4 linked regions of the Homo sapiens genome follow. The protein of the gene in region 4 purifies or fractionates together with the protein of the main gene of each other region. This does not show direct contact. Each region holds a gene or a part of one and is shown on either strand. Other genes may lie near its edges.

Region 1 (3,790 bases), on a different chromosome or scaffold from region 4:
CTGTGAGTTTGGAGCTGGCAGTGGCAGGGCACAGAACACGTGGCTGGCTGCCCAGGTCCTTGGCAGGTCCCCTCCTGGAGTCATCTCCCCACCTGGGGCCTCCACACCTACCTCGAAACCTCCGCAGTGTCTCTACCAGTCCCGGGACCCTGCACACGGTCCTCAGCTCCATAGGCACAACTTCTGGGGGCTGCAGCTTCACATCCTGGACCCTAGAGGGGACAACCCAGGTGTTGTCGCCATGGCCAACAGCTGGGTCCCACCCCACTCCCTCCTGCCCCCCCTCCAGGAGAGGCTGGGTTCGTACCTGCGCAGGGCGTCCTTGATGTCCTATGTGGGGAGGAGAAACAGCACACTCGGTGTCAGTGACCATCGCTTGCTCCTGGAGTCCCCTCCCCGCCCCTGGAGCCTCGCCCCGTCCCCCTCTCCTACATTTGAGCGTCAGGCAGCAAAAACACACACAGGGGGCCATAAACCACCCGCAGCAAGGCTCAGACACAGGAATGCTGGACAGAGGCTCTGACATGTGTGCCAGGAGGCATCACCAATGGGGTGCAGCCCAGCCCTGCGGACCAAGGCCCACTTCTGCCTGACACTTGGATGTAGGGCATCTGGCTGTTGGCTCACTCACCCAGAGCCCCAAGTGGGCGCCTCTGGGTGCCAAGGACAGGACAGGCACACATCCCAGCCTTCAGCATAGGGGCACCTCCACCCCAGCTGGAGCCCAACCCTGTGGTTGCACTGCTTCCTCTCCCAGCTCCACCTGCCCTGCAGGCTCCCTGCTCAGCCCCACTCTTGGGCGTGCGTCCTTCCTGTGTCACTGCCTGATACGTGATAGCATCTGACTCCATGTTAGGGCCCGAATTGTGTCCATCCCGCCAAATCCGTATGTTGAAGCCAGAAACTTCAGGACTTCAGAACTTGACTATTAGAAAAAAGGGCTTTTAAAGAGGAAATCATAGTAAAATGAGGCCATTAGGGTGGGCTGCAATCCAAAATAACTTGAGTCTCATAAGAAGGGGCGACTAGGACACAGACACCCACAGAGGGGAGACCCTGTGAGGATACAGGGAAGAAAAGGCATCTACAGGCCCAAGAGATAGGCCTCAGGGGGAACCAGCTTTGACCTCAGTCTTCCAGTGTGCAGGACTGGGAGACAATCAGTCTCTGCTGGGGAAGCCTCCTGGCAGGTGGTACTAAATGTGGCAGCCCGAGCTGGCGTGATACACCCAGGTATTGGAACATCAGCTCTTAGGAGACACGGTCTTGTATCTCTTAGAGCAGTCTTCAGTGCACTGCAAGGATTTAACCCACACTGTCAAATAGACGATCCCACACCATGTTCATTCTAACACACGTGGTGCCAGCTACCAGGCCAGGATGCAGAGGTCAGTAAGACATAATCCCAGACAAGGGTTTCCCTACATGTAGGAGAAATGGCAAAGGAAGATTTCCACACATACGGGTAGTTAATTCTGTCTAGGGGGACAACAACACACTCTAGGCCCCAAAAATTTTTTAAAAAGGAGGCCAGCACTTTGGGAGGCCAAGGCAGGCAGATCACTTGAGTCCAGGAGTTCAAGACCAGCCTGGGCAACACAGCAAGGTCCCATCTCTAAAAAAAAATTTTAAAATTAGCTGAGCTTGGTGGTGTGTGCCTACAGTCCCACCTACTCAGGGGACTGAGATGGAAGGATCGCTTCAGCCCAGGACATCGAGGCTGCAGTCATAATCACATCACTGTACTCTAGCCTGGGCGACAGAGTGAGACCCTGTCTCAATAAATAATTCATAAATAAATAAATAAAGAGGAGACTCTTGGTAGGGTTCTGAAGCCCAAGAAGAATTTGTTGGTAGACACAGGGGGAGTGCGCAGGGTGAGGGAGGGGTGTGCACAGGGCAGGGGCAGATGGTGCTGGTGTGAGCAAGGCAGCTGGGAGCAGCTCCACCTTGGTTATTCTACCTGGGGTGGGCGGCCCACCCCTGGTGTCATTTGGAAACAGGTGGTGGCTGTCACAAGGCCGGGTGCAGGGGCGGCAGGAGAAGGGCTTGGGGGTAGAGGAGAACCTTGGCCTCGACAAGGGGGTTTGGTCTCTGCACAGAACACGGGCCCTCCAGGGGCAGCATTGACTTGAACAAAACCACTCTGCGGCTACAAGCAGGGCCTGCTGAAGGGGGCAGCCAGGACCCCAGAGTCCATAGCAGCCAGGGCCCCAGAGTCCACAGCAGCCAGAGCCCCAGTGGGTGGATTCCTGGGAGTCACTCAAGCCTTTACCTCCACTGTGCAACCCCTGTCCATTCGGCCTGGGTGCTGGGAACCCGGGTTGGGTTCCCCTACCCAACCGGGGGCCAAGGGTGCAAAGCCATCCCCACCTGTCCCTCTCAAACCAGCACACAGCTCACATCAACACAGAGCTGCTGAGGCTGCTCTCCTGCAACCCCCATGTGGGCAGACCCCCACAGCATGCAGGCCATGTGCTGGCAGGTTGGGGGGACAGGAGGGACCTCCCTGAAGCCTTGTAGCCAGGCCAAACCTGGGCAGGGAGCTTGGCCAAGGCATGGACGGGTGGGCCACTCAGCGGGGTGAATGCAGGTGGGTGTATGAGACCCAACACCCACCCACCCGCCCACATGCCACAATGTCTCAGCTGAAAGCCCAAATTGCATCTTCACACAAACCCTGTGGGTCCCCATTTCCAGGTCAACTCACCTTCCTTCTAAACCCTTCCTGGCTTCTCCAACACCTGTCCTCTCTGCCCTCCCTGAGGGCTCCTCCTCAGTCTTCTGGGTACCTCCCCACCCCACAATTTACTGACCACAGGACCCTCTCCTAATATTCCTCAGTCTTTCTACAGACGCTAGCCGAGCGTCCTTCCCGCTTCCCAGGCTCAAAGCCAGCTGATGTCCAAGCTGGTGCACGCGGCACACGGAGTGGAGGAGCAGATGCTGCAGACTTGGAGGTGGGGGAAACTACCTACTGGGTACAGTGTGCACCATTCGGGTGATGGCTACACTCTGACTGCACTTGTACCCCTTAAATCTACAAAAAAAAAAACAAAAAAAAAAAAACAAAAAACAAAAAAACAGAAAAAAGCTTACAATAGAAATGACAATCGAAACCAGGAGCCGGTGCCTGGACTGATGTTCTGCTGGGCTCCAGAGGCCGGCAGCAGGTCACCCCCTGTGCAAAGCCGCCCAGCCACATCTGCAGCATTGTGGGCTCCACCTGGGTCTGGCAGCCCTGCCCCACCAGTGGCTGAATTCACTCACACACGGCCTCTCTCCTCTGTGGGAGCCAGAATTGCCCAGGGGCCCATTTCCCTCTGAATCTTGGGGCCCCTTGAGTCTACACCATGCTGGGCATGGAACACGTTCTCCATTTTGTGGGAAAAACATCCAGCTGAACCCCACGGGAAGATGATAGCAGACACTCCCAGCCCACACGGGGCCTCTCAGCATGGGAGTGCCGTCAGTCCTCATCAGTGCACGCTTGCCAAGCGGAGAGAGCTGACTCCAGGCCCCCTGACCTGCCGCCAGGCCACAGGCCAGGGCGTCCACTGGTTCTGGTTTGGGGGTGCACCAAGGAAAGCCCAGGCCCAGGGGGCCGGCTCAGGGAGTGGAGCCCACACATGGGAAAAGACTCTCCTGGAAGCAGAGGAGGAGGAGACTGCCCCCCATAATGGAGATGCATGGGGTGTGCCAGCGGGGTGAAGACAGAGTGAAGGGCGAGGACTTCCTGCTGGGGACACCATGGCAGGAATCCTATGGGAGGCCCAAGGTGGTCCCAGCG
Region 2 (3,790 bases), on a different chromosome or scaffold from region 4:
CTAAGGCACAAGAATTGTTTGAACCCAGGAAGTGGAGGTTGAGCTGAGATCGTGCCACCACTCCAGCCTGGGCAACAGAGCAAGACTCTGACTCAAAAAAAAAAACCACGAAAATTTTAAAATATATTTTTACAAAACAGGAAAATATGATCTGTGTTCACAAAAAAAGGCAATGAATGGGCCCGGCACAGTGGCTCACGCCTGTAATCCCAGCACTTTGGGAGGCTGAGGTGGGTGGATCACGAGGTCAGGAGTTCGAGACCAGCCTGACCAACATGGTGAAACCCCATCTCTACTAAAAATACTAAAATTAGCTGGACGTGGTGGCGCACACCTGTAATCCCAGCTACTCAGGAAGCTGAGGCAGGAGAATTGCTTCAACCTGGGAGGAAGAGGTTGCAGTGAGCCGAGGTTACACCATTGCACTCCAGCCTGGGCAACAGAGCGAGACTCTGTCTCAAGAAAAAAAAAAAAAAGAACGAAAATTTTAAAATATATTTTTACAAAACAGGAAAATATGATCTGTGTTTACAAAAAAAGGCAATGAACGGGCCCGGCGCAGTGGCTCACGCCGGTAATCCCAGCACTTTGGGAGGCCAAGGCAGGCGGATCACGAGGTCAGCAGATCGAGACCATCCTGGCTAACATGGTGAAACCCCGTCTCTGCTAAAAATACAAAAAATTAGCTGGGCGTGGTGGCGGGTGCCTGTAGTCCCAGCTACTTGGGAGGCTGAGGCAGGAGAATGGCGTGAACCTGGGAGGCGGAGCTTGCAGTGAGCTGAGATCGCACCACTGCACTCCAGCCTGGGTGACAGAGCAAGACTCTGTCTCAAAAAAAAAAAAAAAAGGCAATCAACGAAGATCAACCCCAAGAGGACCCAGATGTTGGTATCAACTGACAAGAATTCTAAAAGAGAATCAAAATAATTAGTTAAAATAAATTTTTTTAAAAATTTAAAGCAGTTATTAAAACTTCGTCAGGCCAGGTGTGGTGGCTCACACCTATAATCCCAACAATTTGGGAGGCTGAGTCGGGAGGATCGCCTGAGCCCAGGAGTTAAAGACCAGCCTGGGCAACATAGTGAGACCCCATCTCTACAAAAAGTTTAAAAATTAGCTGGACAGGCACAGTGGCTCACGCCTGTAATCCCAGTACTTTTTGGGAGGCTGAGGCAGGCAGATCACCTGAGGTCAAGAGTTGGAGACCAGCCTGGCCAACATGGTTAAACCCTGTCTCTACTAAAAATACAAAAATTAGCTGGGTGCGGTAGCTGGCACCTGCAATCCCAGCTACCTGGGAGGCTGATGCAGGAGAATTGCTTGAAACTTGGAGGTGGAGATTGCAGTGAGCCAAGATCGCACCACTGCACTCCAGCCTGGGCAACAGAGCAAGACTCCGTCTCTAAAAACAAAAAACAAAAAAACACAAAAGGTGCAGGGGAAAGAAAGAAAGAAAAGATGTGGCCTTCTAAGTCAGTGGGAACACGAGCATGCTAGGAGTCAAAAAGTTTAGGGTACTGGGCGTTACCTCAGCATTCCTAAGAATGCTTGAAACCTTGCTGGAATTGCTGAGCCTCTCAGGGTTTGGGACAGTTTTGTTTACATGATAGAATTGTGATAAGATTAGCTGGCACCCTCGGACTCTGATAAAACCAGCCACTTGGCCTGGAAGTGCAGTGTCCCCTCATCTGGCCTTCCAATTCATTATGGTTCCAACCCCAGGGCCTCATTCCCACTTGCTTTGCACCAGCAGGCTTGGCATTTGTTCTCAGAAGGTCACAGAAACCTTTGCTTCTACTTAGAACATGTTTCCTGGGGAAGTTTAGACTTATGACTGACCAGATCCAGAGATAGCAGCACTTTGATGTAAAATCATAGGAAGAGCTTGTTCTCTCAGACAAGCCACTACCCAGTAGGCAAAGCTCAAACGAGAGCCCTTAAATGGTGTGGTCTTTGGCCAGGCCATCATCGTGGGGTTATTCCTAGGTTTGGCAAGCGTCAGCATTTCTTTTGCTTGTGCGATTGGCTCTTTTGCTCAGTGTAACAGCAGACCCCTGGCCTCCAGATGAGAAGGGCCACTAGCGTTCACTAAGTGCATGCTCTGGGCCGGCCACTGCCTAGGACCTTTCTTAGATAGTTGATCATCAAGTAGGTGCTCTTGTTTTAATTTTATTGAGACCCAGAAAGGTTAAATAATTCATCCAGGGTGAGTGTGAGGCTTTATGAGAACTTTACAGTTGTTCTCTCCCTTCCCCCTCCTTGGACTATTCCTGGAACATGAAGGTCCAGTTCCTTTCCCTGATGGCTGTATGGCAGGTGGCGTACTTCATTTCTTTGTGGGAAATTATACTTGTATTGATGCTGGGCATGCTGCTCGCCTCTTCAGTGTTTTCCCAAGTAAGGTCTGACAAATGGGGATCCAAGCCCTCCTGTATTTCAGGCTTTATTTTGGGTACCAAGATGCAAAGACAATCCATTAAGACAGTTCTTGGCCGCTCATGGTGACTCATGCCTGTCATCCCAGCACTTTAAGGAGGCTGAGGCGGGAGGATTGCCTGCGCCCAGGAGTTTGAGATCATCCTGGGCAACAAGGCAAGACCTCATCTCTACAAAAATATTTAAAAATTAGCTGGGTGTGATGGTACATGCCTATAGTCTCAGCTACTTGGGAGGCTGAGGTGGGAGGATCACTTGAGCCTGGGAGGTGCAGGCTACAGGGAGCCGAGATTGGGCCACTGCACTCCAGCTTGGGTGACAGAGTGAGACCCTGTCTCAAAAAAAAAAAAAAAAAAAAAAAAGACTTAGTTCTTCTACTTTTAAGGGGCTTGAAGTCTGAGTAGAAGACTCTTCCACACATAGAAAGCAGTCTTAAAAGGGTGTGTGTGCTCTGATTGTGGTTATATAACATTTACAGAAGGTGGATACAGAATGAAAATCACTTGAGGTTGTTGGGATTTGCTTTAAAACATCCTTTAATGTTGCATTTTTCTTTCACCTTAATTAGGGGAAAAAGGGAGATAATTGGAAACAGGGGTGACCAGAGTGCTCTGGGGAGGCAGAGGTTCTGTAATAACTGTTGGTAGCCAAGGAGGCCACAAAGAAGAGAGGATGTTTGCGTGGTAAGAGTGTGTTGCCATTCGCCAGATACGTGCCAGAGGCAAGGGACATCAAGGCAGTGGGCACAGTTAGATGGTCCACTTTGAAAGTTCGTGGCTGATGGGATCCAGGGATAGCAAGAGCTTATTGTGAAATTACAAAATGAGGTGGTTCTGCCAGGCTAGGCACTACCCAGTAGGCACAGTGATCTTCCAGACCACGTGGTCAGCTCTCTCCCTGAAAGTTTCAACCTCTGTGTGTTGTGTGTCTATCTGTGTGTCTTTGTCAGCAAAAGCTTTTATGAGATACACACCATTTTTTCTTGTTATATGTACATGGGATATCTTTAAAGGAATACCCAAGAAACAACTAGTTGCCTGTAGCGATAGGAGATTTCGTTGTATTTCAAAAATAATCTGAATTTTTTTACTACGTGCATATATTGTTTACTCAGTTTTGTGTGTGTGTGTGTTTTTCTAGAGAAACAGACTTTTTTTTTTTTTTTTTTTTTTTGAGACAGAGTCTTGCTCTGTCACCCAGGCTGGAGTGCAGTGGCGTAATCTCGGCTCACTGCAACCTCCACCTCCTGGGTTCAAGCGATTCTCCTGCCTCAGCCTCCTGAGTAGCTGGGACTGCAGGTGTTCCTGAGTAGCTGGGACTACAGGCGCACACCACCACACCTGGCTAATTTTTG
Region 3 (3,790 bases), on a different chromosome or scaffold from region 4:
GCTCGTGTTTGCTTCTGTGAAGCACTAGGGAACCTCCAGTTTCCATCACTTTAAACTAAAGGTTGACTTAGGGGCTTTTGGACTACCCAGATAGGGTAAAGTCAGGCTGAAAACCAGTCTGAGGGCTGCTCCGTGCCAACGTTTCAGACAGGTAATTTTCCTCATAGTCCCCAAGGGGGTTTATTTCTAGGTCACTCTCACTTTGAAGTACAGCCTTCGAGAACTTCTCGGACAAGCTTTGTCTTCTGTTCCCAGAGGCTGCAGGGCCCCAAAACCGATACTCGGGTTCACCCAGTTCAGCAAATGCCTTCTAAGCAAATGCTGGCTCCAGCACGCGGCTCATCTGCTTGGGTGCCCGGCTTCTCTTAGCTTGTGGCCTGTGTGCTCCTCATTTTCTGGCTACCTCATGAATCCATTAAATAATATTGTCTTTCCTCTTTTATCCAATATTGACAGTTAGGTTTCAGGGAGAACATGAGTCGGGTATCTAGCTGACCACACTGCCAGAAATAGAAGTCTCACCTGTGTGCACACCAAGCTGGAGTACACTGGCGCAACCACAACTCATTGCAGCCTAGGCCTCCCCAGCTCAGGAGATCCTCCCACCTCAGCTTCCCGAGTAGCTGGGACTATAGGTGCACGCCACCATGCCCTGGCAATTTTTGGTATTTTTAGTAGAGATTGGGATTTTGCCATGTTGCCCAGGCTGGTCTCAAACTCCTAGACTCAAGCAATCTACCTGCCTCAGCCTCCCCAAATGCAGCGATTACATGAGCCATCGCACCTGGCAAATTCTACACTTCATCCTGCAATTCTTCCATCACCATTTGTCTCCTGCTCCAGACCATGAACACAGGAGGGCAATGACCGTGTCCATCTCTGGACAATACAACATCCCCAGCAATCAGCACAGTGCCTGGCACATAGTATGTGCTCAGTAAATGTTTGGTGAATGAATGGAGAAGATGAGGAAGTTCTGGAGGGCCGTCACCCACATAGCACAGTTACGCCTCTTATCGTAGGTGTTAGAATTCTGCAGTTCAGAAACACCCCACTGGCTTTGCCGGGAGCAGCCTCACACCATCAAGTCAGCTTCGTATCACGGGAAGAGACAAGTATGGGGCTGCCACCGGAACCACTGGGTCCCCAGCCCAGCGTTAGCCCACATCTCGGCTGGGAGACCTTGGGCAGGCAACAGAGCCTCTCTGAGCCTCACACTTGGCTGGGACTCATCACCCCCAGGCCCCCCACTGCCAACGGGTCCCCAGTGCCTTACCCGGCCACCAGGATGCGGGGGATGTCAGCGGCAAAGGCCTCGCCCATCTCCCGGCTGCCCACGTTGGCGATGCAGTGCAGGGCCAGGCACATGAAGGTGGGGTTGCGGCTGGCCAGGTCATTCTTGATGGCGTTGTTGATGAGGCGGATCAGCTCCGAGTTCGAGTTCACCAGCACAGAAATGAACAGGTAACCCTGTGGGGAGGGAGGTCGTGGATGGCTAGGAGCCTTGTGACTGAGTGGCCCCAGATCCAACCCTCAGACCCAGGAGTCCAGGCCCCAGATTCAACCTCAGACCCAGGAGTCCAGGCCCCCAGGCCCCTCCTCCCTCAGACCCACAAGTCCAGGCCCCCAGGCCCCTCCTCCCTCAGACCCACGAGTCCAGGCCCCAGATTCAACCCTCAGACCCAGGAGTCTGGGCTTCCAGCCCTCCTCCCTCAGAATGGGGAGTCCAGACCCCCAGCCCCCTCCTCCCTCAGACCCAGCAGTCCAGAGCCCCAGACCCCCTCCTCCCTCATACCCAGGAGTCCAGACCCCTAGACCCCCTCCTCCCCCAGATCCAGGAGTCCAGACCTCCAGCCCCCTCCCCCGCAGACCCAGGAGTCCAGGCCCTGGCACCCCCCTCTCCAGACTCACTATTTGCTTCTCTGTGTATTTATTGGAACTCAACAGATTCACAGCCTCCATGTGCCCAAAGTCAATGTCATGGCCAAGCAGGAAGATGAAAAGCAGTTTACACACATATTTTTTCTTACTGTAGCCATCCAAGGCTTTGTCTCCTAGGGCAGAGGAAGGAGGAAAGGGGAGCCAGAAATAAGGAAGGGTCACAGGATAGGTCACAGGAGCCCCAGCTCCCAGCCCCCTCCTCCCTCAGAACCAGAAGTTGGGCCCCCAGCCTACCTTTGAACTTGGAGCGGATGTTGGCCAGTTCCTTGTTGATTCTCTTAATTTCCGCCTCTTTGCTCTTACCTGGGAGAGGAGGAGGAGGGTAGGCAGTGAGGGGTCTGGGGAGTCAGCCACCTGCCCTCTCTTTCCTAGGCGCGGCCCCACCCAGCAGGAAGGGCAGATCTTCTCCGCCCCCAAGCCCTGGGGCTCAGGACAGGCCAGGACCCCTTCTCTGGCTGGGAGTTTCAAAGAGGGAAGAACCACCGCTGGCTGAGCCCCACAGCACAGAGCACACACCCTTGGGCTGTCCCTGACTTCCTCTCTCCTTCCTCCTACCACTGTGGCCCCTGATTTGTGGGGCTCCTCAGGGCCCCAGACACGCTCCCTGAGAGCTCCTGTCCCCACTCCCCACATGCGATGAACATGTGATGAATGAATGAATGAATAAAGAGCTTGGCTGGCCGCAGGGTGCTCACCCCTACCACTGAGCTCACTGCCTCTTCCAGTTCTCAATCCCATGAAGGTCCCACTGTCCACCCAGTCACCAGGTCAGACCCTTGGGTGCTGTCCTCACCCCCTTTGTCCCCACAGCCATGGCTTTGTCCTCTCCCGCGTGGCCTGTCCCCACTGCCTCCTGTTCTCTGGCTGCCAACCTCTCCCCAATTTGTCTGGGACATTCCTACACCTCTGACAGGACCTGCTTGTGGAATAAGCACAGAAAGCCTCCCCTGATCCTGCAGGCCAGGTCTCTGCTTCCTCCATGCTCCTCAATGCCCTACAGCACCCCCTTCAGAGCACAATCCGACTGGATGCTCTCGGCTGCCCTCTCTGCTTCTCCTGTCCCTGTTCCACTCACCCCAGACTTCATCCCTCCCTTGACAGGTTCTACCGTTCCCTCTTCTCCTCCAAACAGAACCTGGACATCCTCACGCCAATCGGGCTACTGCCTCGTCCTTTTAATTTTTGAGACAGGGTCTTAGACTGTCGCCCAGGCTGCAGTGCAGTGGTGCAATCATAGCTCACTGTGACCTTAAACTCCTGGGATCCAGCGATCCTCCCACCTCAGCCTCCCAAAATGCTGGGATTACAGGTATGAGCCACTGTGCCCAGCCACCTCCTCCTAACTTGACCTTCAGAACATGTCTTGAGCACCTCCACGATGACCACTTCATCCAGATCCCATGCTCGCTCGCTCAGGTCAGTGAAGCAGCCTCCCCTCCAGCCTTCTTGCCTCCCTCGTGTTTCCATATCCTGGGCTCTGTGATGCCAGCTGGGGGTGCTCCACTCCACGGCCCATCAAGTCCTCTGCCCCTGTCACAGCAACCCTGCCGGTGTCACCCCTCAGACCCCTACTGTCCATCCAGGCCCCCTGGCCTCCATTTTGCTCCGGGAACACGCACATCCTCTTGCCTCAAGGGCCTTCACACAAGCTGTGCCCTCTTCCTGGGGCCACCCCTCCCCTGTCATCTTCCCATCATTTGGGTCTCGGCTCCTGCCACCCCTGAAAGGCCGTTCCGTTTCACTTCCTTAAAGTCAATTCTTTATTATTCTGCTTAAAGAGTTATTTTTCAAGAAGTCCTCTCTGGTACATTTCACCATGTCACAATTTTATTTCTCTCCACTGTCGAAC
Region 4 (4,081 bases):
CAGAAAAAATACAGCTACAAAATCATTTCAGAGGAAAGCGTACTTACCTCCATTACATGATTACTTTCGTCTCTGTTTAGAACCTCCACATGAAGGAAGGAAACTATTAAGCTTATTCAATATACATGTAAAAGAATTCAAAATTACCTGAAAAGAATGTAAACTCCCAACACTAGAAGAATGATGTGTGGCAAACTAGAGGTCCACAATGAAAACCTCTACCGACCAATAAACTAAACTGGTACTTAAAACTATTTCTACAAATTCTGATATTTACAGAATTTTACAGAAATTTTTCTGTACAGATTATTTTTAAAATCTTAATTTTTCTCTTTCCCCTTTACTCTATGAAAATGAAAGAACCCTCTGCATTTAAGTGCCTTTCTTTATAGAATTTCTATCTTCTTTCACATCAACAAGCCTCTAAATACTTGAAAAACAAATTATCTGATGTAACACTTCGATATGGTTTGACTCTGTGTTCCCACCCAAATCTCATCTTGAATTGTAATTCCCACATGGGAGGTGATTAGATCATGGGGGCGGTTCCCCCATGCTGCTCTTGTGATAGTGAGCAAGTTCTCATGAGATCTGATGGTTTAAATGTCTGTGGCTATTCCCCCTTGCTCTCTCTCTCTCTCTCTCTCTCTCTCTCTCTCTCTCTCTCCTGTGGCCACATAAGATGTGCCTTGCTTTCCATTTACGTTCTGCCACGATTGTAGGTTTCCTGTGGCCTCCCGAGCTATGCAGAAGTGAGTCAATTAAACCTCTCTTGTTTATACATTACCCAGTCTCAGGGATTTCTTTATAGCAGTGTTAAAATGGACTAATACAAACTTGTAATGTGGTCAGATGTCTATAACTAGATTTTAGTCTGCCAATATTTTAATATTGTCTCTTATCGATCAAAAAGTTTAGGTTAACTGTTACTTCTTAATTTCAACTGAAGCCTCCACAGCCTTCCCAAACAAACAAACAAACAAAAATACAAAGTATAATGTTGTTTTATTGGAAATGAAGAACACAGGGACGCTATACATGAAGATGGTCGCTGTAATTTATCATTTACCTTAATAAAACTATTCGCCTAAAATATTTCTAAACAACTTTTGGTAAATTAATTCTTAAAAAATTGCCATTTGAACAGTACATATAGTCAAATACAGATGAAGTACATATACTATGCCGTAATACAGGTCAGACATATTTTTCTAGTATTTTCAAGTGAGAAATGCAAGGTAGTGGGAATAAAGTCACGACACTTCACTCAAGGTCACAAATGCCACTATAAGATCAGAAAGACACAAGAGTTCTATTGACTTGACTTCATTTGTAATAGAAGCCTATTTTCTTTCGGTTACTAGTGTACTCTATATTTACCTGTATTTATACTTTCCACTCTTAAAGGGAAACCAGACTGGGCAACAGCTACAAGTTTCAAAGCAATGTAGAACTGACTTCTTCCAAAATAACCAAGTCTTGTTGCACCACAAAGCTCCATGATCTATAAAATAACATAATGTTAACATTAAGATTCACAACAAAAATCTCCCTTCAAAAATAAGCAGCTACCCAACTTGTTTGTAACGTCTCAAAATATCTATCTAATAGATGGTATAATACTCACAACTGACAACCAACTTCCTCAAGTTTCAGGTTCATATGTTTACAAACAAAAAGTCACTGCTTTGCAATAAGGTCATCATTCTCCTATTTATCAAAATCCATATGATTAGCAATTTTCTTAGAATAAATTTTTGTTATGAGTCACATTTTTAAAGAAACAACGTACCACCCACTCTTATTCATAAGCACTGCACATACAATAGGACCATGTGACTAAGAGACTATTATGCAGCCATTTAAAGTGACGGTCTTTAAATGATATAACAACATGGAAAAATACTAAGGATTTATCAAGTGGGGAAGAAAGGCAAGATACCTAATTTTAACCACATAAATACAAATTTGGAAACTATTTTTTAAAAGTCTATCACAATTTTTTCAGATGAGATTGAGTCGGGTTTTCCCTCTTATTTTCCAAATGTGTTTAATATGGCTACACTACTCTTCTTTAAAACAAACAAAATTTGTCTTTTTTAGAGCATGAAAGTGTTCAAGGATCTACATTAATCATTCCAGTCTTTCAACAAGTATTTCTAGACTTGCTAGCACAAGTAAATATTAGACTCAAAAAATAGGATTTCAGATTACAAAATCATAACTCTAAAAGCTGGAGGTTTCTACTATGCAGATATTATAATCTTATCTTAAAATAAACACTAGGCATGCCTGTTGTATCTTTTCAAATAACACAAACTTTTGTATAGAGAGAGCAGTTTTAGTCTATTTTTCCATAACACTCAAAGGAAGATAAGGTATCTGAGATGCTGTGGTATTAAGTCTGAATAAAACTATTCACAGGACTTCAAAAAAAGGACCTATTAATGATTAAGCAATTGTATCACAACAATAACAGCCATTTATTTACATACACAAAAAAGAGTCATTTTTGCTGGCTGACCAGCACTGGAAGAAGTTCCTGTTCCTGCCACTAAGGAGCATGTCCTTCTGAAGAAATGTAAAAGGGCAAAGAGAATAAACAGGCAGGTTAACACCATCAAGGGAACTATGAGGAAAAGGGGAGTTTAAAAAGGCAAGGTCATGCAGCCCCAATCCTCTACTCTTCTGCCCACTTGACGCCTCTTAGAGGTTCATTACATATCTTAAATACTTTTGTTTATATAACAATGCAACTAACATATGCCAGGTATATGCTAGACAGAGGGAAGACCTAAAAGGAGATCACAGTATGGTTTGTTGACATTTTGGGAAGACACCAGGGAAATGGTTAGAAATGAGGAGGTAGTGTTCAAGAAGGGAAACAGAATCTCAATGCTGTTTTAATTGGTATTTATTAAAAGTTTTATATTTGTTAGCCATTTGCATTTCTTTTCCTGACTTGCCCAACTTGTTCTCTGGCAACTTTAAATGGACTGTTAATCTTCTTTACTCATTTTAAGAAGTTTTATTGTGGCCAGGGGTAGTGGCTCATGCCTGTAATCACAGCACTTTGGGAGGCCAAGGAGGGCAGATTACTTGGGATCAAGAGTTCAAGACCAGTCTGGCCAACACGGTGAAACCCATGTCTACTAAAAATACAAAAGTTAGCCAGGTGTGGTGGTGCGCACTGGTAATTCTAAGTACTCGGGGGGCTGAGGTGAGAGGATCATTTGAACTCGGGAGATGGAGGTTGCAGTGAGCCGAGATCATGCCACTGCCCTCCAGACTGGGTGACAGACTGAAACTCCATCTCATAAAAAAAAAAAAGGTTTTATTATATTATACATATTGACCTGCAAACTGTCATGGAATTAATTCATTTATTCAATGACTATTTACTGAGCATCCTCAGGAAGGAAAGACCAGAGTGTAGCTGTAAGTGTGTGTAGAATTGATGGGGAGGAGGGAATGCAGCAGATGGAGCTGATGACTTAGGCAGAAACCAGATCATATTGCACATGTTGTTTTCTAGTTTATCTGTTTTTTCCAAAAAAGCTGTTTTGGTGATACAGAATTTTCCAATTTTTATACAAGCTTGTCATTTCCCCTTTAGGACTTTTGGGTTTGCTAGACTTAGAAAAAAGGTCTTTATACATGTTTTCTTCTAGAATGTTTATGATTAATATTGAAAATATACAAGTCTGACCAAACTGGAATTTATTTTGGAATGAGAAACAAATCAGATATCCTTTTGATCCTCCTCAATAGTTAACTATTGAGGCCAGGAGCAGTGGTTCATGCCTGTAATTGCAACACTCTGGGAGGCCAAGGTAGGAGGACTGCTTGAGGCCAGGAGTTCAAGACCAGCCCTGGCAACATGGTGAGATCTCATCTATACGAAAAAAAATTTAGTTAAAAATTAACTGGATGTGGTGGCACATGCCTATAGTCCCAACTACTCAGGAGGCTGAAGTGGGAGGATCACTTTTGCCTAGGAGTTCAAGGCTGCAGTAAGCTATGATGGTTTTACTTCACTCAAGCCTGGGCAACAGAGCAAGACTCTGTCTCCCCCCGCAAA

The links.
Region 1: the proteins of REPS1 (region 4) and TRIM11 purify together in Homo sapiens (affinity purification with mass spectrometry; one large-scale study listed by BioGRID and IntAct). This does not show direct contact.
Region 2: the proteins of REPS1 (region 4) and SGF29 purify together in Homo sapiens (affinity purification with mass spectrometry; 3 studies listed by BioGRID and IntAct, with this or other methods). This does not show direct contact.
Region 3: the proteins of REPS1 (region 4) and AP2A1 purify together in Homo sapiens (co-immunoprecipitation; 2 studies listed by BioGRID and IntAct, with this or other methods). This does not show direct contact.

The regions. Positions count from the first base shown.
Region 1 is NC_000001.11:228,396,836-228,400,625, forward strand, and holds part of TRIM11 (E3 ubiquitin-protein ligase TRIM11), read right to left. Parts: intron 331-3,790; coding exon 308-330; intron 275-307; exon of another isoform or gene 213-274; coding exon 112-212; exon of another isoform or gene 1-111.
Region 2 is NC_000016.10:28,560,130-28,563,919, forward strand, and holds part of SGF29 (SAGA-associated factor 29), read left to right. Parts: intron 1-3,790. UniProt on the Homo sapiens protein: Chromatin reader component of some histone acetyltransferase (HAT) SAGA-type complexes like the TFTC-HAT, ATAC or STAGA complexes.
Region 3 is NC_000019.10:49,780,211-49,784,000, reverse strand, and holds part of AP2A1 (AP-2 complex subunit alpha-1), read right to left. Parts: intron 3,597-3,790; exon of another isoform or gene 3,409-3,596; coding exon of another isoform or gene 3,291-3,408; intron 2,245-3,290; coding exon 2,176-2,244; intron 2,055-2,175; coding exon 1,912-2,054; intron 1,471-1,911; coding exon 1,277-1,470; intron 1-1,276.
Region 4 is NC_000006.12:138,946,410-138,950,490, forward strand, and holds part of REPS1 (ralBP1-associated Eps domain-containing protein 1), read right to left. Parts: intron 1,505-4,081; coding exon 1,381-1,504; intron 1-1,380. UniProt on the Homo sapiens protein: May coordinate the cellular actions of activated EGF receptors and Ral-GTPases.